7 linked regions of the Homo sapiens genome follow. The protein of the gene in region 3 interacts with the protein of the main gene of each other region in a pairwise test. Each region holds a gene or a part of one and is shown on either strand. Other genes may lie near its edges. The genes, in order: FAM90A1, CDC37, MIPOL1, BYSL, EIF4E2, NTAQ1 and KIF9.

Region 1 (3,859 bases), on a different chromosome or scaffold from region 3:
CTCTGAGCTAGGAGAAAAGCTGCCCTGTGGCGGGAGGCGAGACATGTTGGCAGTAGTGCTGCCTTGTTATTCTTTACTCCACTGAGATATTTGGGTGGAGAGAAACATAAATCTGGCCTACGTGCACGTCCAGGCATAGTACCTTCCCTTGAACTTAATTATGATATAGATTCTTTTGCTCACATGTTTTTTTTGTTGACCTTCTCCTTCTTATCACCCTGCTCTCCTACTACATTCCTTTTTGCTGAAGTAATGAAAATCATAATAAAAAAAACTGAGGGAACTCAGAGGCCGGTGCCGGTGCAGGTCCTTGGTGTGCTGAGTGCCGGTCCCCTGGACCCAGTGTTGTTTCCCTATACTTTGTCTCTGTGTCTTATTTCTTTTCTCCGTCTCTCATCCCACCCGACTAGAAACACCCACAGGTGTGGAGGGGCAGGCCACCCCTTCACTTGGAAAATCAGTTAAACACAAACACGGAATGAAAGTCAAAAGACAATATGTCATCTTTTTGAGAATTTTATTCACTTCAAAACAAATTCAACACACCTATTTACAAAGGGATTCCAGAGCCCACTTTTCGAGGCTGAGGAAAGACCCCGAGAGCGCTTTGCACAGCGCGCTTCCCAGCGTCCGAAACACTGCTCTCAGGGCGGGGCACAGCGGAAGGGCTGCACCTCTCAGGGTTCCCTAACTTTTCCCTTATTCAGTCGTCTAGAGAGCAAATACACAGTAATTCCCCCGTTTCCTATTGACGTCCCAGCGGAAGTCTGACTCCTGCGCGTCATGCAGTTTCTGAGGCAACGAATCACTGGCACGGAAGCTTTTCCTGGCGCGTTTCCAGAGAACCATGCGAACTACAATGTCCCTCACCAGAATTCAACGTGGCAGAGTCCCTGCATCTGCTCCCTGCCTGGCCTGGGCTCCCACATCCACAGAAGGGCCACAGCCGGGGAGCTTCGGAGTCACCGCACAGAGTCTGCTCTCTGCTCTGTGCTCCTCAGTCCCACAGTCCCCTCCAAGTCACGGGAGCTGGAGGCCAAGGAGCCCCTGCCACCTGCAGTCTCACTCCAGGTCAGAATCGCTGTCCTCTGAGGAGGAGGGAACCTGAAGGTCCTCATAGAGGACGCTTGGTGGGACACGAACACAGGGACCCTCAGACTTCTCTGAGACATGAGGGCTCTGAGCGAGGAAGGCTCCCGGCTTCTCAGGAGAGTGAAATGAGGGGGCCGTCAGCAGGCTGGAGCTCCAGCGTCCGTTTTCCAGTCTCCGAAAGAGCACTCTGAGAGGCTGGGCCCCATCATGGCTGGCCGCTGGGTGATGGGACATGGTGCAGGCCTGGGCAGTAGGCAGGCAAGGTCTGCTGTGCGGAGGCTGCCGGTCGCCGCTAAGCACCTGGGCGGGTGTCCTCGTGCCTGTCTGGGGTGACGTACGTGGTCCAAGTTCGGTTGCGGCTGGCGGAGGTTGGAGATTCTCCGGGGCCCCCAGCTCACCTCCCTGGATGGCGCTTTCGGGGATCTGGAAGGGACCCAGTCTCGGTTTCTTGGGGAAGTTCAGGCAAGCCTGAATCGGAGCCGGGGCAGATCTCTTGGCTCCTGGCCCGAAGCTGAGATTGGAGCCTAGGCCCAAGCTGTGTGTGGCGGCTGGTGGGCAGGGCTGTGAGGTCACCGCAGGACGTTTGTCTTGTGCCTGGGGGCTGACGGCCTGGAGCAGGCCGTGGGTTTTGGAGGCAGCCTGGGGAACTTCTCGACAGCCACCCGCAGGGCTGCTGTGTGTCGGCTTCACCACGAGGAGAGGCTCGGGGCCCTGGTGCCTGACTGCAGTCTGAGGGATGTCGGCCGCAGCCCCTGTCTGTCTTTCCTTTGGTCCAAGACTTGAGGAGGAGCTCAGACTGGCTTTTCTGAGGGGAGACAGTGAAGCTAAGACGGAGCCCCTGTCAGACATTTCGGTAGCTGAGCGATCAGAGAGGACAGGGTCCACACGCGGCCTCTTACTGGTTGTGTGGACCGGCATTGGCCCGCTTGCAACCTGAAAGAGAGGAAACAACACAGGTTAGAAGTTCCTCAGCATGGAGCCAACATGAAAATCAACCACATCCAAAGACAAGGTGCACACGCCATGAAATTCTTAGTACACTATCGACAGGCGGTCCTTGGAAGTAGGGACAGACCCTCCACCTGAGTGCTGATCAGGACAAGACACATGAAAGATGCGCTCTCGAGCTATGTGTAGCTGATCTAAGCACACCATTGTTCAAAAGATTGCGTCTTAGGCATTAGCTGGATCAAAGCGCCTCCACTCAGCCTTCCATGAAGTGGAACCGACTGATGCCCTTCCGAAGGCAGGTTGGTGGCTCAAGGGTACTCAGGACGTCTTCTCTGAACATATGCATGTTCCTGGGTTTAGCCTTCTCCACGTTTGGGGCCTCTGAGGGACTAATTTCCTCATGCCGCTAGGAACGTGTTGTTGGCAGGCTTGCCATAATTGGACAGAAAGAAAGCAACAGGAAATACGGCATCTTCAGATGCCTTCGCCTGGAATCAAATTGACCTGGAAGGATCGTGGAGTGTCTGACCCCAAGAAGGCAAGAAAGAGGGGTTCCCCGATTCCCTCCCGCAGACGGGAAGCTGAAAGGAAATCAACCAGGGTGACCTAGAGGAGAAAAAGACCAGGGGCCCAGGGTGACCCTCACCCTCAGATAATCAGAAGATTCCGTGGATCCTTTTTGATTTGGCAGCGGCTTCTCTGGAGGTTTCCTGGAAAATATGTGGAGGAGAGCCTTCCTCTGCGGGTCTTGTGGCCTGCAGAACAGAAAAAGGTCAGGCCGTCCTCCCTGGTTTTCCCCAGGAGACGGGGAGAACCCTGTCTGGGGCCCAGTCCCATTCCGTGTTTTGTGATACAGAAATGGACATCTGGTGCCCTTTCCGCCTCTGCACCTTCCCTCACGTGCCAACCTTCCCATCCTCCAGGTGGCCCTCTAGGCTTCCCAACTAAGGACTGTGATTTGGATTCCATCACTTTTCCCCCTGTCGTGGGGAACCTGCACGAAGCGCCCCCGCCCCTCCCCGTCCCTGAATCTCCCAGAGCCAAAGGAGCTCTTGGGTGTGGAACTCCGGAAGACACAGAGCTCCGGTCTGTTTCTCTGCAGCGTTCCTTCCCTGGCCCGGAGACGGAAAGGCACACGGTGTGCAGGTGCAGAGACACCATGTCCTTAGGAGGCAGTACCCTAAGAGTGGTGAAAACCACTCCCACTGCTCACCTTGGTCTCTCTTCCTTCTCTCCCTTATCCTTGTTCAAGGGCCCAGGGTTCGCTTCAACCTGGGGCTTCCATGGTTTCAGGTTTTCCTTCCCTTCCTTTTCCCCAAAGTTCGGTGGAACCAGGGCTGCCTTCCAGCACTTCATGGGGCACCTGGTACTTCTGGCCGTGTGGCCAAAGGCCTCACAGTTTTTGCACTTGAGCTGTGGGTGGAAAGGAAGTGATGTCAGTGAGTGAGCTGAAGCCACAGGCACCGATCCCACGTCAACATTGAGACGGATTGTGAATTCAGAGCTGAATAAGGATTCCAAAGAGGGGACACCGGCATGGGGGCCGTTAAGTGCTGGGAGAGTTCGGATACGATGTTCCCTCCCAAAGCCCATGTGACGGAGGAACTCTAAAAGGCAGGACTCAAGGTCCTAAGGGGCACGATGGTGAACCCGATGTCAACAACACAGCCAAACGTGGCTACACAGGACTCTAAGTAGAAAGGGAGGTTGCCCCCAAGAGTCTCTCAAGGGGCCTATCGGGCCGGGGAGGAGGTCCCAAGCCACGCCCACCTTGGATGGGAAAAGCAACCTGGGTGGTGGTGACAGAACTCTTTGG
Region 2 (3,500 bases), on a different chromosome or scaffold from region 3:
TTCCCCAAGTCTATTCCTGACCTACATGAAGGGCTCCCCAAGGCCTGGGCTCCCCCGCCGGGGACCTCATCTGGCATTTGCCAAAGACCACCTGCTTGGGAGCCCTGCTCTACTGCAGATCTGAGACACTCATGTCCTCAGTGTCCCTGCATGGGCACCTCTAACTCAACATGGCCACCTCCCAGCCTGCCTTGTCCTTGGTCTCCCTAATCTCGGTAAGGATAGCCCTGTTCCTCCAGGTACGCAGGTTAAAAATCCTAGAGGCTAGGCCGGGCGCGGTGGCTCACGCCTGTAATCCCAGCACTTTGGGAGGCCGAGGCGGGCGGATCACGAGGTCAGGAGTTCGAAAACATCCTGGCTAACACGGTGAAACCCCGTCTCTACTAAAATACAAAAAATTAACCGGGCATGGTGGCACATGCCTGTAGTCCCAGCTACTCAGGAGGTTGAGGCTGGAGGATCGCTTGAACCCAGGAGGCGGAGGTTGCAGTGAGCCGAGATCGTGCTACTGCACTCCAGCCTGGGCAACAGAGTGAGACTCCATCTCAAAAAAAACAAAACAACAACAACAAAAAAACCCTGAGGCTGGCAGGCACCTGTAATCCCAGCTACTTGGGAGGCTGAAGCACTAGAATTGCTTGAACCCGGGAGGCAGGGGTTGCAGTGAGCTGAGATCACGCCACTGCATTCCAGCCTTGGTGACAGAGCAAGACTCTGTCTCAAAAATGAACTAAAACCCAAAACCCTAGAGGCACCCTCACCTTTGTCCTTTACCCACATATTCACCTGGGTACCTTCAGCACATCCTACTGCTCCCACATTTTTTTGTAATGCAGTTTTGCTCTGTCACCCAGGCTGCAGTGCAGTGGCAAACCACAGCTCAAACTCCTGAGCTCAAGTGATCCTCCTGCCTCAGCCTCCCAAATAGTTGGGACTATAGTACTCAGTCACCAAGCCTGGCCTGACCTCCACTTTTATTTAATTAATTAATTTATTTATTTATTTATTTTTGAGATGGAATTTCGCTCTTGTTGCCTAGGCTGAAGTGCAATGGCACGATCTCGGCTCACAGCAACCTCTGCCTCCCAGGTTCAAGCGATTCTCCTGCCTCAGCCCCCCGAGTAGCTGGGATTACAGGCACACACCACCATGCCCGGCTAATTTTGTATTTTCAGTAGAGATGAGGTTTCTCCATGTTAGGCTGGTCTCAAACTTCCAACCTCAGGTGATCTGCCCACCTCAGCCTCCCAAAGTGCTGGGATTACAGGCGTGAGCCACTGCGCCCGGCCTCCACTTTTAAAGTCTGGCAGAATCTGCCCACTTCTCTCCTCCTCCCTGGCCCCACCCTCTCCTGATCTAGGATGCGGTGACTGGAGGGGCTTGAGTCCCAGTGGAGAGGAGTCGGCCTTACCTAGAGCATTGTGGGCTGGTTCCCTGGGGAGGGGGCCTCCAGCCACCTGGCAGCTCAGGGACCCTACCTTAATCTTAGTGAAGAACTGCCGGAAGCAGGCCCGGGGGTCCACCTTTAGGCTCTTGGCCAGCTCCAGGATAAATTGCATGACGATTGTCTGGTGGGCCACCTGCTCCATGAGTGCACATTTCTGCCAGGAAGAACAGGCACAGCGTCACCAAGTGGCGGCCTCATGGCAGCGCCTTTTCACAGTCCCGGGGAAAGCTCCACTCACCTCCTCCACCTCTAGGTCAATGCACCAAATGACCAGGTAATTGGCTGTCTCCTCGCACACCAGGTGGACGTTGTCTGACAGGTACTTTTGGCTGTCATCCCAGCGGCGAAGCATGCCTGTGGGAAGATGCTGGCAAGGTGCTGGAGGGCCCTGGAGGCAAAGGGCCTGCCTCGACCTTGCCCCCCATAACCCACAAGCCCCACTCACCAAAGTGCTTGATCTGTTTCTCGTATTTTTCCACGAAGGTCTTGTGTTTCTGCTCCCTCACCTCCTCTGAGTCCTCCTCCGTCTTCTCGGGCTTGGTATTTACCATGCTCTGTGGTAGGGTGAGAGGGGGAGTGGGCTGGGGCAAGGCTGCGGAGCGCCTCGAGCGCGGCCGGGCGGGCCGTGGTCGCAGCGCCCATCCCATCCACGGCGGAGGTGGTGACGAAGCCATGAGCATCAAGGTGGCGGGAGCGTGGGCATGGGCCTTGGGGCAGATCAGAGGAGGGGACCGGTGGGGTGTTTCATCCGCCCGGCCCCCCAAGCCTGTCCCCCCTCCCACGTGGCCCCCGTCCATCCCTCAGCTCCCCGCCCCCCACCACACTCTTCAACTACACCACCGGGGTCCTCCCCTGACCAGGCATTGGGTGCGCATGCGTCCTGGTTGCAGGCTCTCTGGCTGCGCATGCGCACTGCCCGCCCCGCCCGCCCCGCACACCTTGCTGAAGCCGTCTTTGCTGAGCGTGTCCACGTTCCAGGGCATGCTCTTCTCCTTCTTGCGCATCTCCTCCAGCTTCTGCTCCCAGCTCCGCTCCTCCTTGCGCAGCTGCTGTGCCTCGGCCTGCAGGCGCTCCAGCTCTGCCTTGCCGCCCTCGGCCACCTCCAGCTCCTTCAGTTTCCTCTGGCACTCGGCCACCTTGCGCTTGCACTCGCGGCAGCCCCTGTCCAGTTCCTCCTTCTCCTTCTGGAACTGCTCCATGCGTTCCACCCGGGCCTGCGGGCAGGGACGGCCTATCAACTCTGGGGAGTCGTCTGTCCCTTACCCCCGCCCCATACCCAATCCCTGCACCGGAGATGGCCCCAGGAAAAAGTACGCGTCCACCTCCCGTGCCCTGGTCTCCCAGCTTCCGCCCCTGCGCCCACAGGTGCCAGCGCACACCCAAGTGGGGTCAGGTCCCTCCGTCCTCTGCTCAGAACCCTGGCGGCTCCCATCTCACAGCAGAACCCAAGTTGTCACCACAGCCTACATGGGCCCTACACAATCTGCCTCGGCACCTCCCCTGGTAACTCTTCCTTCCAGCTACACCAGCCCCTCACTTTTCTCACCTTTTCTTGAGGCCATTTTTTTTGTTTAAGAAAACAAAACAAAACAAAACAAAAAACAGGGTCTCACTCTGTCGTCCAGGTCAGAGTGCAGTGGCCCAATGATGACATACTGCAGCCTCGACCTCCCTGGGCTCAGGCGATCCTCCCACCTCAGTCTCCCAAGTAGCTGGGACTACAGGTGTGCACCAGCACGCCCAGCTAATTTTTGTATTTTCAGTAAAGATGGGGTTTGCCATGTTGCCCAGGCTGGTCTTGAAGTCCTGGGTTCAAGCGATCCTTCCCTCTCGGCCTCCCAAAGTGCTGGGACTACAGGCGGGAGCTACTGCACTCTGCGGAGCCCACTTTTTTCTTGAACCTCAAGGCCTTCGCACTGGCTGTTCCAACTACTTGGAATGCTTTTCCTTCAGAGCCCCCCACAGCTGACTCCATGGCACCCGTGCCATCTGGGCTCCATGTTGCCTTAGCGAGGACCCCTTCCCCAACCACCTTCCTGATGATGGCAACTTC
Region 3 (3,500 bases):
TGAATATGTGACTATCTTCATACAAAGGAGAAGTATTTCCTCTCAACGAGCTAAAACAATAAGTGGTATTTGAACTGCTGGTTGAAAGGTAGAGGCACTGGTAATCATTATTTCCCCTTGTTTGTTCAGCCCCTTCCAACAAAACAAACAACCTTTTTGTGATTGGATTGACATGGTGTTAACAATGCATTTAATGCCCAAATCAGTATGAATACAGGTAAAGCTCTCACTAATACCAGTACCAGGATGTTAAAGCCACCTATTTTCTAAGCAGCCAAAAAAAAAAAAAAAAAAAGGAGAGCTTCCCCTCCTTTGGCAAATAAGCCAGTATGCTAGTATTCACCAAGATACATCATATAATAACCTTGTGTGTGATTCTTCAAGCCATGTGTTAATACTCCTCTACTATACCTGCTGTCTTTTCAGCAATTTTAGCTTCTGTTTCTTTCTCTTGGAGTTCCAGCTTAAACTTTAGTTTTCTCTGTTCTTTATCTTCTTTAGCCAATTTCTGCTGAAGCTAAAGCACATTGAAAAAAATCATGGATTCTTATTTGACAAATGTCTTGCAAAAATATAATTAATTTCAAAGTTTTTGGTTTTTTCTTAATTCTTATATTATATTTAACTTCCTAGATAGATAACTCCAGAAAAAAATTTAAAATTTAAGTTATTTATAAAGTAATAATTACCTGTAGTTATACAGAAATTGTAAAAACATCCCAATATACACTTAATTTATGTGTATATGTGCATGAACAGGCAAATTAAATTCAGAGGACCAACATTATTCTTAAAAATAACTACTGCAGTTCAGATGTGGTTGCTCACGCCTGTAATCCCAGCCCTTTGGGAGGCCGAGGTGGGCAGATCACCTGAGGTCAGGAGTTTGAGACCAGCCTGGCCAACATGATGAAACCCCGTCTCTACTAAAAATACAAAAAATTAGCTAGGTGTGGTGGCGGGCACCTGTAATCCCAGCTACTCGAGAGGCTGAGGCAGGAGAATTGCTTGAACCCAGGAGGCGGAGATTGCAGTGGGCTGAGATCGCGCCATTGAACTCCAGCCTGGGCAACAAGAGTGAAACTCCATCTCAAAAAAAATAATAATAATAATGACTACTGCAAAAGCAGTCTCATTCATCCTTTTTTCTTAATGCAAAATATTTGGAAGGGATTTGCCTAATAAAATAACAGATAGCACTGCTTTACAGTTTATCTTAGTAAATCCAATATTCTGAAACAAAATTAAGACAATAATCTTAATATCTGATACAAATCTCCCTTTGAGAATACTACCCCATCATATTCCATTTAAATTGACACTGACACCTGACTCATAAGTGGCATGTAATAAATAACTGCTAAATGAAAGTACAGAAAACATCTCATACAGAATCCCTCCACATGTTTTTTTAATTCCTCCCTAGGTTTTTGTCATTTTAGTTGTTTTCCTCCAAACATGATCAACATTCCTAACATCATGCTTCAGTTTGATTAGGTTACACAACTAGAATATTAAAATCAGAGCAGTATGTAGAGGTTAAAAAAAAAAGAAGACACAGAAAATGCACATTATTTAATAAAATTATTTAATGATCACATGACTATAACTAGAATAAGAGTCAGAACAGAAGATAAAACATAACGTGACAAATTGGACTGGACAAAATGCAGCAGTATAAGATTAACACAAGGTAAATGACAATATTGCCAAGCCTTGCTACTGAAATGTTTAATTACATGTATTATTGAGGTCAAATATAGGGCATGGATACTAATAAAGAAAAAAAAATTAAGATAGTAACATGAAACCAGTGCATTCTATCTCCCATTCTCTATAATACTGAAGCAGAGTTTTACTAAAACTTGAATCTTTTTTTTTAAAGATATGTATACAAGGAACCAGGGGCTTATGAAAAAGGAAGTGCTAATGTGGACCAGCAAGGTATGAAATCAAAAAAATGCTTTCATTTTCAACCCCTTAACTCAACCATACCCTGATGGCAAGGTATGGCAAAAACATAAAGCTACTGTTAAATGATTAAAGTGCAAAATAAAACTGAATTATGATGGGCAACAAAGGAAATTTAGAAGATCAACAGCTAAACCCATACTATACAATTATCAGACTTTCCATATTATACCTTTTTATTGCTTGTTCTGAGAATATCCAATTCTTTTAGAAGAAATGCTATTGTCTTCTCTTTATCTGAGTCTGAAGTAACTTGACAAGGAGTCATACATTCATAATGCATATCATTATGTCTATGTTCCATAACGCTGTAATAAAGAAACTGATTAACATTTCAGAGTAAGATAAACTAATTTTTTGACATTTTGTATGCTACTTGAGAACAGTATCAACTTGTAAGCAAACACCATAAAGGAAGGGAAAGGAAAAGAGATGGGCTGTTTTTTTGAAGGCCTTATATTAAATTTGTAAGCACAGGTAAATTTTGGAGTCACTAAGAAGAAATTTAGTGACGGCTGGGACAGTCAGTGCAGCTCTATTTACCACGTACATCTCCTGTTGTAATTATGCTAGATATCTCATAATCTGACTTTAGCCCAATCTCTACTATTTACTTTACCCATGTGGTTATAAAATGTTTATCCCTACTTCATTCTTCTGTGCTTCTACTCCTCAAAAGGGACTCCAACCTACACCTTAGTAAGAATCTGAAAAAGGGATGGGAACATATCAATACATCTATTTCATTATATGTTACTATCTATTAACATATCTACTGAATAATTTGAAAGTAGAATAAAAGTTCCTATGCAAAAATCTGTTAAAAATAGTATGCTGCAAAATATTATTTTGTCTAGACTGAAAATATATTAGTCACTGAAACTTCTTTTTAAATCTAATAATATTTTTCTAGCACATGACTAATTATCAAAGTTCCTTAATCTCATGGGTAGAAGTATCAGGTATCACAAATTCAAATCCTTTCATGAGCTAGGTAGGCAAGGTTACTGGGTAAAAGCTGAGAAAGTAAAATAATGAGGAATGCAAATGGTAGAGAACAAGGCCCTTTTAAAAGCATCAAATTCATTTAAATGAAAAATAGCGCTAACCCAAACCAAAATGCATGTTTGGGCTTACCTTGTCCTGGAGCTGCCAGTTTTTTACTTTCATGAATGATATGTCATGTATATCAATTTAACAGTTATTTCCAAATACATAAAGAAAGGTCACAGAAAATAATATTGAATAAAATAGAATTAAACCTGTCTTTCTTCAGATGCACTTTGTGCTTTTTCACTTAGTTAACTAGACATATTATATCCATACCATGGAAACAGTAGAAAACCCTGGTAGATTCGCCAAGTTCTAATAAGTTTAGAATTAGCCAACACCAAAAAGAAAGAAGGAAAGAGGAAGAAAGGGAAGAAGGGAGGGAGAAAAAGTTCTTCCAATTCTAACTTTCTCTTTTTTTTTTTTTCTTCAGACAATCTTGCTCTGTTGCCTAGGCTGGAGTACAGTGGCACAATCTC
Region 4 (3,500 bases), on a different chromosome or scaffold from region 3:
GATATCTCTGATCTCTACTTCTAGACTCCAGTAGCAACCTTCCCCCAGTTGTGAAAACCAAAAATGACATCAGACATTGCCAAATGTCCTCTGGGAGGCAAGACTGCCCCTAGTCAGGACCACTAATTTATTCCCATCTATAATAAATGCTAGCTCCAAAACATGCAGGCATTTAGACTGCCTGTGGTCAAACTCCTGAGCCCATAAATTTTGGCCCTTGGGAGTGGAGTCTAGGATAAGGGTCCTCAACCAGTTCATTCTGACCCTGTGATATTAACATAATGGTGTCCCTGATACTTTAGGCTGTTTTGGGCTAATGCATCTCATTGCTAATCATACTATAAAAGGACAGGGAGGCTGATAAATTCTGTGGCAGCTTATTTGAAAATGCAGAATGAAGAAATGAAAATGAGCCCCTCTCCCAGATTGATGCCTAACAGTTGAAATATATGTCATAAAGTATGTACTTGGGCTTGTCCCCCCAGAGAGCCTCTCAGGTTCTCACTCAGCACCTCATAACTCCTACTTCACTGATAATGCTGACCAATTTAGCAGAATGCTTTTCCAGCTTGTAGTAAATAGAGTAGACAAGCTCCTTGAAGTAATCAGAACTCCTGGCAGTCGTAAGAAATGATAGCTGGCATCTTCAGAAAGCAAGCCTAGATCCACATGAATTCAACAATCAGAGGCCATTTAGTTTGGGGGCACATTATAAGGTACTATAAAGCACCTTAACTCAAGACTTCCAAAAACCTGAGTTTGACTCTTACCCCCACCTGACAGCTGTGAGGCCTTGGGTGAGTTATTAACCTGAGGCCCAGTTCCCATGTCTGCATAAGTTTCCGTGTCCTATAAGTGTTGCGCTGACTCTAGGACTGAAAAGTCCCAAACTCAGTGCCTGGCATTGAGTAGGACCTCAGAAAAGAGGAGCAGTTTGTTTTTTGTTTTGTTTTGTGACAGGATCTCACTCTGTCACCCACGCTGGAGGGCAGTGGCATGATCTCAGCTCACTGCAACCTCAGCCTCTCGAGTAGCTGGGATTACAGGCACGTACCACCACGCCTGGCTAATTTTTGTTTTATTAGTAGAGACAGGGTTTCACCATGTTGGCCAGGCTGGTCTCAAACTCCTGACCTCACGTGATCCACCTCCCTCAGCCTCCCAAAGTACTGGGATTACAAGCGTGAGCCACTGCGCCCAACTGAGAAGCAGCTTTAAATACATTTCAGTCTGGGCATGGTGGCCCAGACCTGTAATCTTAGCACTTTGGGACGCCAAGGCAGGAGCCCAGGAGTGTGAGACCAGCCTGGGCAACATGGGGAGACCCCATCTCTACAGAAGAATAAAAAACTAGCTGGGCCTTGTACTATGTTCCTGTGGTCCCAGCTACTCGAGAGACTGAGGCGGGAAGATCGCTTGAGCCAGAGAGATAGAGGCTGCAGTGAGCCATGATGGTGCCACTGCATGCCAACCTGGGCAACAGAGGTAGACTCTCTCTCAAAAAAAATAAATAAATACACTTCAGCAGCCTCTGAAGATGCTAGTATTATATGACAGCTCAAGGCGATGGTAATTCTGAATCATTAAGATAAGATTATGTTTGATACACCCAACAATACTGTTTAAGGAGGCTGAAAAGAATATAATCAGTCTTAGAAATATTTCCATAGATAACGCTTACTGTGTACTGACCATTCCAAGTAATGAACAGACATTAACTTATTTAATCCTTCCATTAATCTTTTAAGGTGGGTACCGTTATTATCCCTATTTTACAAATGAGGAAACAGAGGCATAGAGAGGTAAAGTAACATGCCCAAGATCATACCAGGGAGTGGGTGAGCCAGGATTTGAACCTGGGCAGACTGACTTCAGAGTTGAGGTTCATAATAACCTCCGTACAACTGCTAGCTTTGTCCTAAATGGAATGACTTTCAGTTCCTTTGCACCCTGCAGTGATTCTGTCTGTGGTGGATGAATGGGCACAGAGAGAGAACTCTAAGCTGCATATCCCAGCAGGATCGCAGTATGGCGGTGCTCACAGGGGACTGTGGGGAGTCTGGAGCTTCCTGGACAGTGACCACAGTGCTCCTTGCCCCCTCTCTCCCCTCCTCTTGGCACTTCCCCTCTTAGGCGCACCCTGGCTGACATCATCATGGAGAAGCTGACTGAGAAGCAGACAGAGGTTGAGACAGTCATGTCAGAGGTGTCGGGCTTCCCTATGCCCCAGCTGGACCCCCGGGTCCTAGAAGTGTACAGGGGGGTCCGGGAGGTAAGAGCTGAGAGGGGAGCCATGGTGGAAGACCCCTTTGGGGGCTGTGGGCTCCTGCCACAGGCTTTTTTGCCTTTTGCCTGCATCACATACTAAAGAAGTCATGGGAGTAGAAAACAGACCTAAGAGGCAGAGTGTGTGGGTTCAGATTCCTGCTCTGCCTGTAAATGACTTGGCATCCTTGGGTCGGTTACTGGAACTCTCACTGGTCATCTGTAAAATGAGCATAATAATGGCACCTCCTTATAGGTTATTGTGGGGATGCAATGAGTTAATATATTAAAAGCACCCAGACAAGTTCCTAGCCCACAGCAAGCTTGCCATATGTGGATGACGATGATTGTTTTACCTCCCTCATCCCTAGGTATTATCTAAGTACCGCAGTGGAAAACTGCCCAAGGCATTTAAGATCATCCCTGCACTCTCCAACTGGGAGCAAATCCTCTACGTCACAGAGCCGGAGGCCTGGACTGCAGCTGCCATGTACCAGGCCACCAGGTAGAGTAGCTGGGGGTTCGGGGGCCTTGGGTTTATAGGTGCAGGCTGAGTTTGGGACGGACAGGCTTTCCTTGCCTCTGGCCCCAGGGCATTTGAGCTTTGCCCCAGGGCCCTCTCTGTGCTACTTTATAGCATCATTTTTCTAGCTTTTCCTGTGTCATTTTTTGGGGCCAAGACCCAGTTAGCCAGTTAGGAACCCTCCGTGATGAATTTCTAGGGGAGAGGCTTTTATAGCTACTGGGATACAACCCTCTGTGATGAATTTCTAGGGGAGAGGCTTTTATAGCCACTGGGATACAACCCTGTAGCAGGACCCTCAGAAGTCTGTGACTGCCCAGGCATGCTCAGGGCTACTCAACTGATGCTGAGTAGCCATCAGTTTGCACGAGCTCTGGCTCTCCCACAGACAAACGGTGCTCCTCATTTGGGTATATCTCATTGCCCCTCCTATTCTCTCTCTAAGCTGATGGGTGTTGCATGCACACAGCTCCCACACATCCCCCACTGAAAGAAAGGTCCCATATTTTACTTTAAAACCTCTTGTATGCACTATCCATGGTGATATTTAATGGGCCGGGTCCAGACTGTCGTGTGAGTTGGAAACTTCCCCCGCTTAACTCCCACTAGGATTTTTGCCTCTAACCTGAAGGAACGCATGGCCCAGCGCTTCTACAACCTTGTCCTGCTCCCTCGAGTACGAGATGACGTTGCTGAATACAAACGACTCAAC
Region 5 (3,500 bases), on a different chromosome or scaffold from region 3:
TCCCAAGGTTGAGATTTAGTTAAGAACATAAGCATGGAAGACACTATACTACAGGCTGTCCTTTTCAGAGGACTCATTTTCATGTGTGGTGTTGTGAGGGAAGACATATTAGAGGAAAAACATACCATCTAGTTTGACAAAATAAAAAATGTAACATTCGCAATTCAAGAATAAAATCTTTGGTGAGAAATGCAAGCCTCAGCCAGGAGCTTTAGTTGGTGAAACCATGTTAATACGCACTCTCCCACTCAAGCTGCAGGGTAGTCATCACATGCAGTAAGAGGACCAGGTTTTTGCACAATGGAAACTCTTTAGCCTTGAGGTATGTAAGTGTCACACAGCCTCAGCCTGAATGCATTTTTTAGAACCAAATCACTTACCGATGAAAGATTGTTTAACTGGCAAATATAGCATTTGCTGAATGAAATACCTCTTAGACCTGTTTAGTTAGTAAGCATAAGTGATAGAATCAACCACATGTAAATACCTCTTAGACCTGTTTAGTTACTAAGCGTAAGTGATAGAATCAACCACATGTACCACACATACCACTCTACATCATGGTGCTGTTGCTAAGTCCAGGCCAATCCAAAATCATACAGGACTTAGCTTCTCATAGCTAGGGTTTAAGGCCCTCTTCTTAGCTAGAAAAATTATGTTTCTCCTTGCCGCTCCTTCACAATCCCGTGAGAAAACTAGATTTATATTTTTCCATCAAGTATATGCTTATTTGTATTCATCACAGTAGTCCTGTTTTTCTCATTAGTGTCACCCCCCCTCCCCTTAAAAAAAAAGAAAAAAAAAAGAGACAGGGTCTACGCAGCAGTATGATCATAGCTCATCACAGCCTCTAACTCCTGGTGTCAAGGGATCCTCCCATCTCAGCCTCCCAAGTAGCTGGGACTACAGGTTCACTAGTGTCTTGATAGGAAAGATTATTTCCTTATTCACAGAGGATACGTAGTAAGTACTGGCCAGTGAAGAGGCACACTTTAGGAGGAAAGAGAAAACACGGAACATTCCAATGAGAAATAGCTGGTATCTGCTAAACTGCTGAGCAGGCTCTAAATCAACATACAGCAAGATACCACAACTGTGGAGCTGACAATGGGTATCGAGTAGACAAAGATTCAGGTCATACTTCTAGATATGGGGAGCACCTAAGGAGAAATCAGCCTTACACTGCGTGAAATGGCTGTCCCTTTAGTTCCTCTCTAGCACAAGCACACGTGATGCATCTTACATGGTAAAAAGAAGTCAGAACTAACGCCATCTATAGGGCTTCAAGGCAGTGCTTTATACTCAGCAACTGCTAAGCTTAGCTGCATGTAGTGACTCGGAATAGTAAATGGTCATATGAATACAATCGGCAATAATGTAAACCTTTATCCACCCTAACATAGTTGAATAAAACCACATATACCCACTAGAACCAAGTACACCCACTAGTGGCTCATTGTGAATAAGGAACTGAAAGGGGCTTGGTGAGGACAAAGTATGTCAACCATCTCCAGTTCCCCAGTCAATAATCGCTTTAACAGTTTGGTCTCCCCAATCTTACAACTACACTGCACAATCTTTTTTTTGTTTGTTTTTTTGAGATGGAGTTTCGCTCTTTTTGTCCAGGCTGGAGTGCAATGGTGCAGCCTGCCTCAGCTCACTGCAACCTCTGCCTTCTGGGTTCAAGTGATTCTCCTGCCTCAGCCTCCCGAGTAGCTGGGACTACAGGCACACACCACCACGCCTGGCTAATTTTTGTATTTTTAGTAGATGGGGTTTCACCATTCACCATGTTAGCCAGGCTGGTCTCGAACTCCTGACCTCAGGTGATCCACCTGCCTTGGCCTTCCAAAGTGTTGTGATTACAGGCGTGAGCCACCGCGCCCAGCCCCACTGCACAATCTTATATGCAAACCATAAGAGAGATGAAGTTAAACAGCTCGAGACTATCATTCATTCATTCATTCATCATTTGAGATGGGGTCTTGCTCTGTTACCCAGGCTGGAGTGCAGCAGTGTGATCATGGCTCACTGCAGCCTCGACTTCCCAGGCTCAAGCAATCCTCCTGCCTCAGCCTCCTGAGTAGCTGGGACCACAAGTGGGCACCACCATGCCCAGCTATTTTTTTACTTTTTTTGTAGAGATGAAGTCTAACACTGTTGCCAGGCTGGTCTTGAAGTCCTGGATTCAAGTGATCCTCCCTCCTTGGCCTCCCTGAGTGCTGGGACTACAGGCATTAGCTACTGTGCCTGGCCTGAGAAATATTATTAAACTTTAAAAGATTTGACAGTTCTAATTGAAACCAAAAAAAAAAATAAGCATTCACAGACTCAGAATATGAGGTGCCGAAAGGACCTCAGAAATCATGTCAGCAACTTGTTTTATAGTTGAGAAAGGTTTCAGGACTGAGTTGCTCTAACCAAGAGGGTCAAGCATCAGAATAGGTGAGCTCTGATTACCAAGTCTAGTGCTCTTTCCATTTCAAGATGATGCCTTCCTAGTCACTCTGACTTCAAGAACTTTTAAATGTTGTTAATGATTAGGCTAAGAATCACTGGGAAACACTGCTTTCAATTTGATAAAAGGATTCATAATGTAATTATTTATCTGTGATGCATTTAATATTGTGAGCCATTTCCTAGTGACCTGAATTACACAACAGACTTTATTTCTATTTTTCAGGTCCAGACCTACAGAGTCAAAATGACAGACTTTAAATACTGTCACACATCCAGTGAGCATGGATGAAGCCTTAACCCAAGATAGTCCTGATGATAAACCACTCCTTAACATATACACTGAAACAAAAGAAAAACCCTCCTCGTACAATTTGGGTAAATTCTTATATGCTTTTTTTTTTCACAAGAGGGAAATAAAAATGCAAGAAGTATGCATAATTACTCCAAAAAAATCTTTTTTTGAGATAAGATCTCACTATGTTGCCCAGGCTGGTTTTGAACTCCTGGCTTCAAGCGATCCTCCCACCTTGGCCTCCCGAAGTGCTGGGATTACAGGCATGAGCTACCAGGCCTGGCCAAATTCTTTAAAATCAATCTTAAACCCATCTCTTCCAAGGCAGTATTCCCCAAACTGGAATCAATTCCTTCTTTCCTCCAAACTCCAAGAGCACTCTAAATGCCTTTCCCATAGTATCACTTACTGTCTTCCCTGTATTAGAAATTCCTGGGCACATCTTATTTCCCCAAGGACAGGATCTGTGCCTTCATTCCTTTTAGAAGCCTACTAGAGCCTTGAATTCATTCAACAAGCATTTATTGAACCAAATATGAACCAGTGCACAAGGTAGTTTATTATTACAAAACCCCTAAGTTTGCTGATTCTAAGATAGCACTGGCAAACTAAACAAGATCTTTGCTTTAGGCTGAAATTTTATCAGCTCAGCATAGTAATGATGTTGATTTCATATTAAGCAGATTATAACTGAGTTGTAAGAGTATTCTAGATACAAGTATTAGATATGATTTGCAATATTTTCTCC
Region 6 (3,500 bases), on a different chromosome or scaffold from region 3:
TGGCCAGGCTGGTCTCAAACTCTTGATCTCAAGTGATCCACCTACCTCAGCCTCCCAAAGTGCTGGGATTACAGAGTGAGCCACCGTGCCCAGCCTATGCTTATTTTTAGAGACAGGGTCTCACTCCATAGCCCAGGCTGAATGAAGTGCAGTGGCTCAACCACAGCTCACTGCAGCCTCAAACTCCCAGCCTCAGCCTCCTGAGTAGCTGGGACCACAGATGCACATCACCACACCCAACTAATTTTAAAAATTATTTTTGTGTGTGTGGAGACAAGGTCTTGCCATGTTGCTCAGGCTGGTCTTGAACTGCTGAGCTCAAGCAATCTTCCCACCTCAATCTTCCTAAGTACTGGGATTACAGGTATGAGCCACTGTGCCTGGCCTTCTCAAGAGGCCTGATTTTTAGAAAGTTCTTTCTCATACTGAACTGAAATCAATCTTCCCATACCTTTGCCCCAGATGAATCTCTCTTCTACGTGACAGGTCTTTGGCTATCTGAAGCAGTAGTCAGAACCCACCTAAGTAAAGTGATGCCCAGTAGTACATCAAACAGAGCAGTAACTGAGCTGCACCTCCATGCACAGGAAACCAGTCACTTCGGGCAGTACTCACAGCTCAGCTGTTGGGTTCCTATCTTTTTCTAGTAAGATACACGCACCTTTGCTCAAAATGAGGTACACTAACACTCTGTTCACAGAATGTGGCTCAGTCTGTCAAAGCCTAGTTTCTTTTTTGCAGGGGGGAGCGGGGACGGAGTCTCGCTCTGTCACCCAGGCTGGAGTGCAGTGACACAATCTCAGCTCACTACAACCTCCACCTCCTGGATTCAAGCGATTCTCCTGCCTCAGCCTCCCAAGTAGCTGGGACTACAGATGCATGCCACCACTTCTGGCTAATTTTTGTATTTGTAGTAGAGATGGGGTTTCACATGTTGGCCATCACATGTTGGCCATGGCTGGTCTTGAACTCCTGACCTCAGGTGATCCACCTGCCTCGGCCTCCCAAAATACTGGGATTACAGGTGTGAGCCACCACGCCCGGCCCAAAGCCTAATTTCATCCACGCCATGCTACCTAAAAATGAAGCAAGGCATGAACAGCCCTGAGGATGGTCACCATCTTACAGAAGTAGACACTCTTTCAGTTCATCAATCTTTGCCTTGCCTGTCTCAAATGCTCTATAAAACTAGGCTTAAAATACGGAAGTTGGACATGTTTTTCTCCCATGGTTTTCCTTTTCTCTAAAATAACTAGGAAACTACAAGGGAAAAGTGATGGTTGTGGTTAAAAAAAAAAAAAAGTGGGGGGGTGGGAAGATTGCTACTGCTACTGACTACTTCATATGATATGTACTATAGAGTAATAAAAATTTACTGACTGGGCCGGGCATGGTGGCTTACGTCTGTAATCCCAGCACTTTGGGAGGCTGAGGCACGTGGATCACCTGAGGTCAGGAGTTTGAGACCAGTCTGGCCAATATGGTGAAACTCTGTCTCTACTAAAAATACAAAAATTAGCTGGGCGTGGTGGCTGATGCCTGTAATCCCAGCTACTCGGGAGGCTGAGGCAGGAGAATCGCTTGAAACCAGGAGGCGGAGGTTGCAGTGAGCCAAGATTGTGTCACTGCACTCCAGCCTGGGCGACAGAGAGAGACAACCTCTAAAAAAAAAAATTTTATTGACTGTTTCAACATGACATATGGTATATGTCATATTACGTCACAATAAAATTTCCTTAATCTAAATGTTCTAAGGCCAGGTTTGAAGAAGACAATTATCTCTCTGGCTTATACAAGTTTTTCGGGAGTTTACCGCAAATACCTTCAAGAGCTTATAATGTACAAAATACTGTGCTAAGTGCTTGGAGGATATGATGATAAATTAGAGCTTACAGACCATGAGCAGAGACATACAAATCCATAACTGGCAAGCATCATAGAAGGCCATAAAAGATGCATGCAGAAAGGAAGAGGGTGTCATTAATTCGGAGGGATATGGGAAGAGGTATAGGTTGTAGTTTCTCTTTGTTCATTCCCCTCTAAGGGTGGGCTTAGAGTTAATACAAAGGGGCCAGGCGAGGTGGTTCATGCCTGTAATCCAGGCACTTTGGGAGGCCAAGGCAGGCGGATCACCTGAGGTCAGAAGTTTAAGACCTTGGATCACCTGAGGTTGGGAGTTCAAGACCAGCCTGGCCAACATGACGAAACCCTATTAAAAATACAAAAATTAATGGCCAGGCGCAGCAGCTCACGCCTGTAATCCCAGCACTCTGGGAGGCCGAAGCGGGTGGATCATGAGGTCAGGCGTTCAAGACCAGCCTGGCCAACATAGTGAAACCCCGTCTCTACTAAAAATACAAAAAATTAGATGGGTGTGGTGGCAGGCACCTGTAATCCCAGCTACTCAGGAGGCTGAGGCAGGAGAATTGCTTGAACCTGGGAGGCGGCGGTTGCAGCAAGCTGAGATCGTGCTACTGCACTCCAGCCCAGGCAACAGTGCAAGACTTCGTCTTAAAAAAAAAAAAATACAAAAATTAGCTAGGCGTGGTGGCACAAACCTGTAATCCCAGCTACTTGGGAGGCTGAGGCATGAGAATCACTTGAGCCCGGGAGGCACAGGTTGCAGTGAGCCAAGATCGCACCACTGCACTCCAGCCTGGGTGACAGAGTGAGACTTCATCTCAAAAAAAAAAAAAAAAAACGCATAAAAATAAAAACACAAAATCAGCCGGGCGTAGGAGCATGCACCTATAATCCCAGTTACTCAGGAGGCTGAGGCACAAGACTCACTTGAACCCGAGAGGCAGAGGTTGTAATAAGCCAAGATTGCACGACTGCTCCTCCAGCCTGGGTGACAGAGCAAGACTCCATCTAAAAATTAAAAATAATAATAATAATAATAAAAACTACAAAGAGTTCATGAATCCACAGATACCACAAGCACCACTGGTAAGCTGAATACATAATGTGGCTTGAACATACACTGTTATTTTTGAAATATATGTAAATGTTACACAGAAAAAAATGTAAACTTCGTAAAAGTCACTGACTTTTTAGTCCCTTTTAGTCAGCAATTGTTTTTCAAGAGCATAACGAATATCATGTAGGAGAATCCCATGAAAGTTTCAATGTTAAAAAAAAGGGGGAGATGATCTTATACTCGGAAATACAAGGAGTCACAGCTGAAACAAAAATACCTGTAGGTGGGGTGCAGTAGCTCACAACTGTAATCCCAATGCCTCGGCTGAGGTGGGAGGATAACTTGAGCTCAGGAGTTTGAAACCAGCCTAGGCAATGTAGCAAGACCCTCCGGAAAGAAAAAGAAAGAAAGAAAGAAAAAGAGAAACAGAAGAGAAGGAAAAGGAGGGAAAGGAAGGAAAAGGAGGGAAAGGGAGGAAAAGGAGGGAAAGGAAGGAAAGGAGGGAAAGGAAGGAAAAGAAAGACAAAGAAAGAAAAAAGAAGAGAAGAGAAAACAAAAGAAGAGAAGGAAGGAAAGAGAG
Region 7 (3,500 bases), on a different chromosome or scaffold from region 3:
AGATACTGAAGCTTTGACAGTGGGATATTAAGGGTATTGCTCCAAAAACAGGAGCATGGATGGTTCACATACTAGAGGAATGTATACACTTCTTATAGGACAGGGCTGCAAAAAATCCTGTCCTATAACACTTCTTATAGGACAGGGCTGTAAAGCTGCCTCTTGGCAGCTTTTGCCTCCTACCTCCGACCAGAGGGTCCTTACAGAACCCAGGCTAGTGGGGCCCAAAGGAAGGCCCTTCTGTCTTATCTTCAGTTATGCTATTGAGACCCCCCGGGCTGACACAGTCCTGAAAGCTCAAGTCATGCCCTCCTTCTTGCTTTTGATCTTTCAGGGGCTGTGGTGGTGAAAAAAGCCAGAGTAGGCCAGTAAGGAAGTTCTGCAAGGGTCTATATGCCCCTCATTAAAACCAGGAAAGAGAATGATTAGGACCTCCAAATCCTTAATTACAGGATCACAGACCACTGGAGCAGCAAGAGGCTGATTAGCATGCCTGACTCCCTCCTTCCCAAATGAGGAAACAGGCTCAGTGTGGGTATGGCTCAGAGTCTGACACCCAACCTCCTGGTTTCCTGAGGCCCCTGACTCTACTGACTCCAGAGCCCTGTGTATGTTGTCTCCAGTACCAGTATCCACTGCAACTCCTTTGAGGCCTGGTCCCCACTGTCTCTAGTAGCTGGCCCAGGGTCAGTAACATCTATGGCAGAGAGAGGGAACCTGTGTGGCATCCCACCCTTGGGCCCACTCTCTACCTGCTGCAGGGCACGAGGGAGGATCCCCCGGTGCTTGTAATTCTCAGTTGCCCCCATCATGGTGTATGTCTTGCCAGCTCCCGTCTGCCCATAACACATGATGGTGCCTGCAAACATTTCAAAACACGGTGACATCCAGGAAAATAGCTCCAAGGATAACTCTCCCCTCTCCCAGCATGCCTGGTGCCAGCCAGGGCCCTTTGCATGAAGATGGCCAGTGGGGGCAGCCAAGAACATCAGGAATTCCACCATGGAAGAGGATGGGTGGGCAGGGGAACAGGGACAAAAGTGGTCAAAACAAGGACATCTGCCCTGAATCTGTGGTCCCCACAATGCTCTGCTGTTCCCTCCACCAAGAGATGATCCGGCCCTAGGGCTTCTGAGAAGGACAGGGAATCTCAGGGTACAGAGGAACTGGAACTTTTCCTAAAAAGATGAGGAGGGAGATAGGAGCATTAGACTCCAGCCCTTCTCTAGCACAGCTATGAACTGCCAGGGTCTCAGGGTTGGCAGGAGGCATCAACTTCCCCACAGAGGCAAAGAGGGGCTTTCAAAATCTCCAGGAAGAGATGGAGTGGAAAGGGCATTTTCTGTCAAGGGTGAGAATTCTTTGTAGACTACAAATTCCTGCAGGATGAAACAGGGCTCCTAGTTGGTTCCATGTCACTTCCAGAAATGTACCACCATGATCAGGCCCTGATCTGGTCCACTGCCCACCCTGGGAAGACTTTCATTGCACTTCTCAACATCCTTTAGGTCTACCATCACCACCAGGCTCCGGGACACAAACCATGCAGTCACCCTGAGCTCCGGCTCCTATCTGTTCTTCCCCTTAGCATGGGCAGCCTGAGCCAGACCCCATCCCACAGGCTGCCCATGGGCATTTACATGGCAGATCTGCCCAGGCAATGCTGGGCTGTGAAAATTTTTTGCCTTTGTCACACAGACACTCTAGTTCTTGGGACTGGTGGCAGGTTTTACACAAGCGATCCTGATTCAGCATCTGAGTTGGAGCCAGAAATGGTGTCTATTAACCCAACACAAATGAACAGGAAGGAGTCACTTCAGCTGCAAATCAGAGCCCATTTGTGGTTCCACAGCACCAGTGCTCAAGACTATTCATCTCCCTGGGCCTTAGTTCCTCTGTCTTCACCTCCTCAAGGTCACAATCAGAGCATCATGAAAACCAAAAGAGAACCTCCTTAAGTCAGTGGGGACCACACCTACGTATCACATTCAGGATAAATTACAGCATCTACACTCAATGCACTTTTAAATATAAAACCTAAACTTGCAAAACAGGGAACATCCTAGTCAGCAGCCACCAGATGGCAAAGTCTACAAACTGTGACATATTCTTTTATACAATCCTATACTAGAATATCAACTGTACATTGATTGTGTTGGTAGAATACATGAAAATAGCTCCTAGCAGGAAGCTGAGAGACAAATGTTTGGACTCCATCAAATTTGTCATAAAGACGTATCTTCAAAACTAATACTTGAGAGATTTGAAACAGGATAATTGAACCCCTGTGACCTATAGAGAGCCATAGTCTTTTAATTTTCCTATGAAGGTAGAATCCCAGGACATTGGATCAAGCCATGCCCACAATGTCAACAAGCAAACAGTAAGTTTTGCAACGTAAGAACATGGAGACAGACAAACATACAAATGATAGTGAGTGAGCTTTTATTTTATTCACCATAAAATATTTGCATCTCTTACTCCTCAGGTTCTTACATAAGACAACATTTAATTAATTAAGTTACCATTATAGCCATCGAGGGCCTGAGAAACCACATCCTTTGCAACTGTCTCATAAACCAAGTCCTGGGAGGCATCGTGAAGAACTCCATCCAACTTAAACGACCAGTCTGTCTGTTGGTTATTGACAACTCCTCTCCGAATGTCTTTTTTTAAGTGAATATCAATGCTCTAGGAAAAAAGAGTGAGAAAGAAAAAAATGTTATTTGTTCAAAAATGGGTATAAAAAAAATCACTGATAGCTGAGGCCTAATCTGGAGGGAACAGAGGAAATGAACTGTAGGATGAATGGGGACTCCCACGTAGGGGCTGATATTCCAGATGAATTCTTTGGGATGGGAGAAGAGAGTTCCTGCAGGGAGATGGAAAGATCAGGAGAGTGGAGCACTTTCTAGTTTTAGCACCTCTAACCCTAGTTCACACGGTGCTGTCTTTGTTTCCCCACCTATGATATGAGGTCAAATTTATCATGTTCTTATTAAACAAGTTTTAGATAGATTCCATAAGCATAGGGAGGCCTTGAATTATGCCAGAGGGAATAGTGAGCCTGGTAACAGAGGCCTGGGCTCCAGCCTCATTGCTCTGGTTGCTGGCAGTGAGGCCTCCCTCAGCTCTGCATTATGGTGAACATCTACTTCCACACACACGCTATGAGCCAAAGTGAGTGATGATGAAATGAAAGCCACAGAGAAGGCTATGGACTTCTCAGACATAGGAATTAAGAGTAAATTGAGGGTGTCATCAGCAGATTTTTAGATGCATGCCCCTTCATAGTAAGCCATTGTAGTAGCAGCTGGCTTAGGGACATACTGGGTAAGGTCAGTGGTAGATTCCAATCTTCTTGATGAGAACTTCTGATGTAAAGACTCTTGCTGAAATCTTACACTGACTGCCCTAATGCAGGAGCTATACCTGGCTACAGAGAGAAAAATTAAGATGAAGAAAGACAGACTTGGCCGGGCATGGTGGCTCACGCCTGT

The links.
Region 1: the proteins of MIPOL1 (region 3) and FAM90A1 interact in binary tests that used the Homo sapiens proteins (3 or more experiments, as listed by UniProt).
Region 2: the proteins of MIPOL1 (region 3) and CDC37 interact in binary tests that used the Homo sapiens proteins (3 or more experiments, as listed by UniProt).
Region 4: the proteins of MIPOL1 (region 3) and BYSL interact in binary tests that used the Homo sapiens proteins (3 or more experiments, as listed by UniProt).
Region 5: the proteins of MIPOL1 (region 3) and EIF4E2 interact in binary tests that used the Homo sapiens proteins (3 or more experiments, as listed by UniProt).
Region 6: the proteins of MIPOL1 (region 3) and NTAQ1 interact in binary tests that used the Homo sapiens proteins (3 or more experiments, as listed by UniProt).
Region 7: the proteins of MIPOL1 (region 3) and KIF9 interact in binary tests that used the Homo sapiens proteins (3 or more experiments, as listed by UniProt).

What each region holds. Positions count from the first base shown.
Region 1 is NC_000012.12:8,220,760-8,224,618, forward strand, and holds the end of FAM90A1 (protein FAM90A1), read right to left. Parts: intron 3,457-3,859; coding exon 3,257-3,456; intron 2,799-3,256; coding exon 2,690-2,798; intron 2,026-2,689; coding exon 1,063-2,025; 3' UTR 501-1,062; downstream 1-500.
Region 2 is NC_000019.10:10,393,543-10,397,042, forward strand, and holds part of CDC37 (hsp90 co-chaperone Cdc37), read right to left. Parts: intron 2,662-3,500; coding exon 2,386-2,661; intron 2,002-2,385; coding exon 1,893-2,001; intron 1,802-1,892; coding exon 1,686-1,801; intron 1,602-1,685; coding exon 1,479-1,601; intron 1-1,478. UniProt on the Homo sapiens protein: Co-chaperone that binds to numerous kinases and promotes their interaction with the Hsp90 complex, resulting in stabilization and promotion of their activity. Inhibits HSP90AA1 ATPase activity.
Region 3 is NC_000014.9:37,267,437-37,270,936, reverse strand, and holds part of MIPOL1 (mirror-image polydactyly gene 1 protein), read right to left. Parts: intron 2,280-3,500; coding exon 2,144-2,279; intron 518-2,143; coding exon 412-517; intron 1-411.
Region 4 is NC_000006.12:41,927,999-41,931,498, forward strand, and holds part of BYSL (bystin), read left to right. Parts: intron 1-2,133; coding exon 2,134-2,272; intron 2,273-2,636; coding exon 2,637-2,770; intron 2,771-3,397; coding exon 3,398-3,500. UniProt on the Homo sapiens protein: Required for processing of 20S pre-rRNA precursor and biogenesis of 40S ribosomal subunits. May be required for trophinin-dependent regulation of cell adhesion during implantation of human embryos.
Region 5 is NC_000002.12:232,560,689-232,564,188, reverse strand, and holds part of EIF4E2 (eukaryotic translation initiation factor 4E type 2), read right to left. Parts: intron 1-3,500. UniProt on the Homo sapiens protein: Recognizes and binds the 7-methylguanosine-containing mRNA cap during an early step in the initiation. Acts as a repressor of translation initiation.
Region 6 is NC_000008.11:123,423,274-123,426,773, reverse strand, and holds part of NTAQ1 (protein N-terminal glutamine amidohydrolase), read right to left. Parts: intron 1-3,500. UniProt on the Homo sapiens protein: Mediates the side-chain deamidation of N-terminal glutamine residues to glutamate, an important step in N-end rule pathway of protein degradation.
Region 7 is NC_000003.12:47,272,800-47,276,299, forward strand, and holds part of KIF9 (kinesin-like protein KIF9), read right to left. Parts: intron 2,692-3,500; coding exon 2,526-2,691; coding exon of another isoform or gene 2,509-2,525; exon of another isoform or gene 2,429-2,508; intron 860-2,428; coding exon 753-859; intron 1-752. UniProt on the Homo sapiens protein: Essential for normal male fertility and for progressive motility of spermatozoa.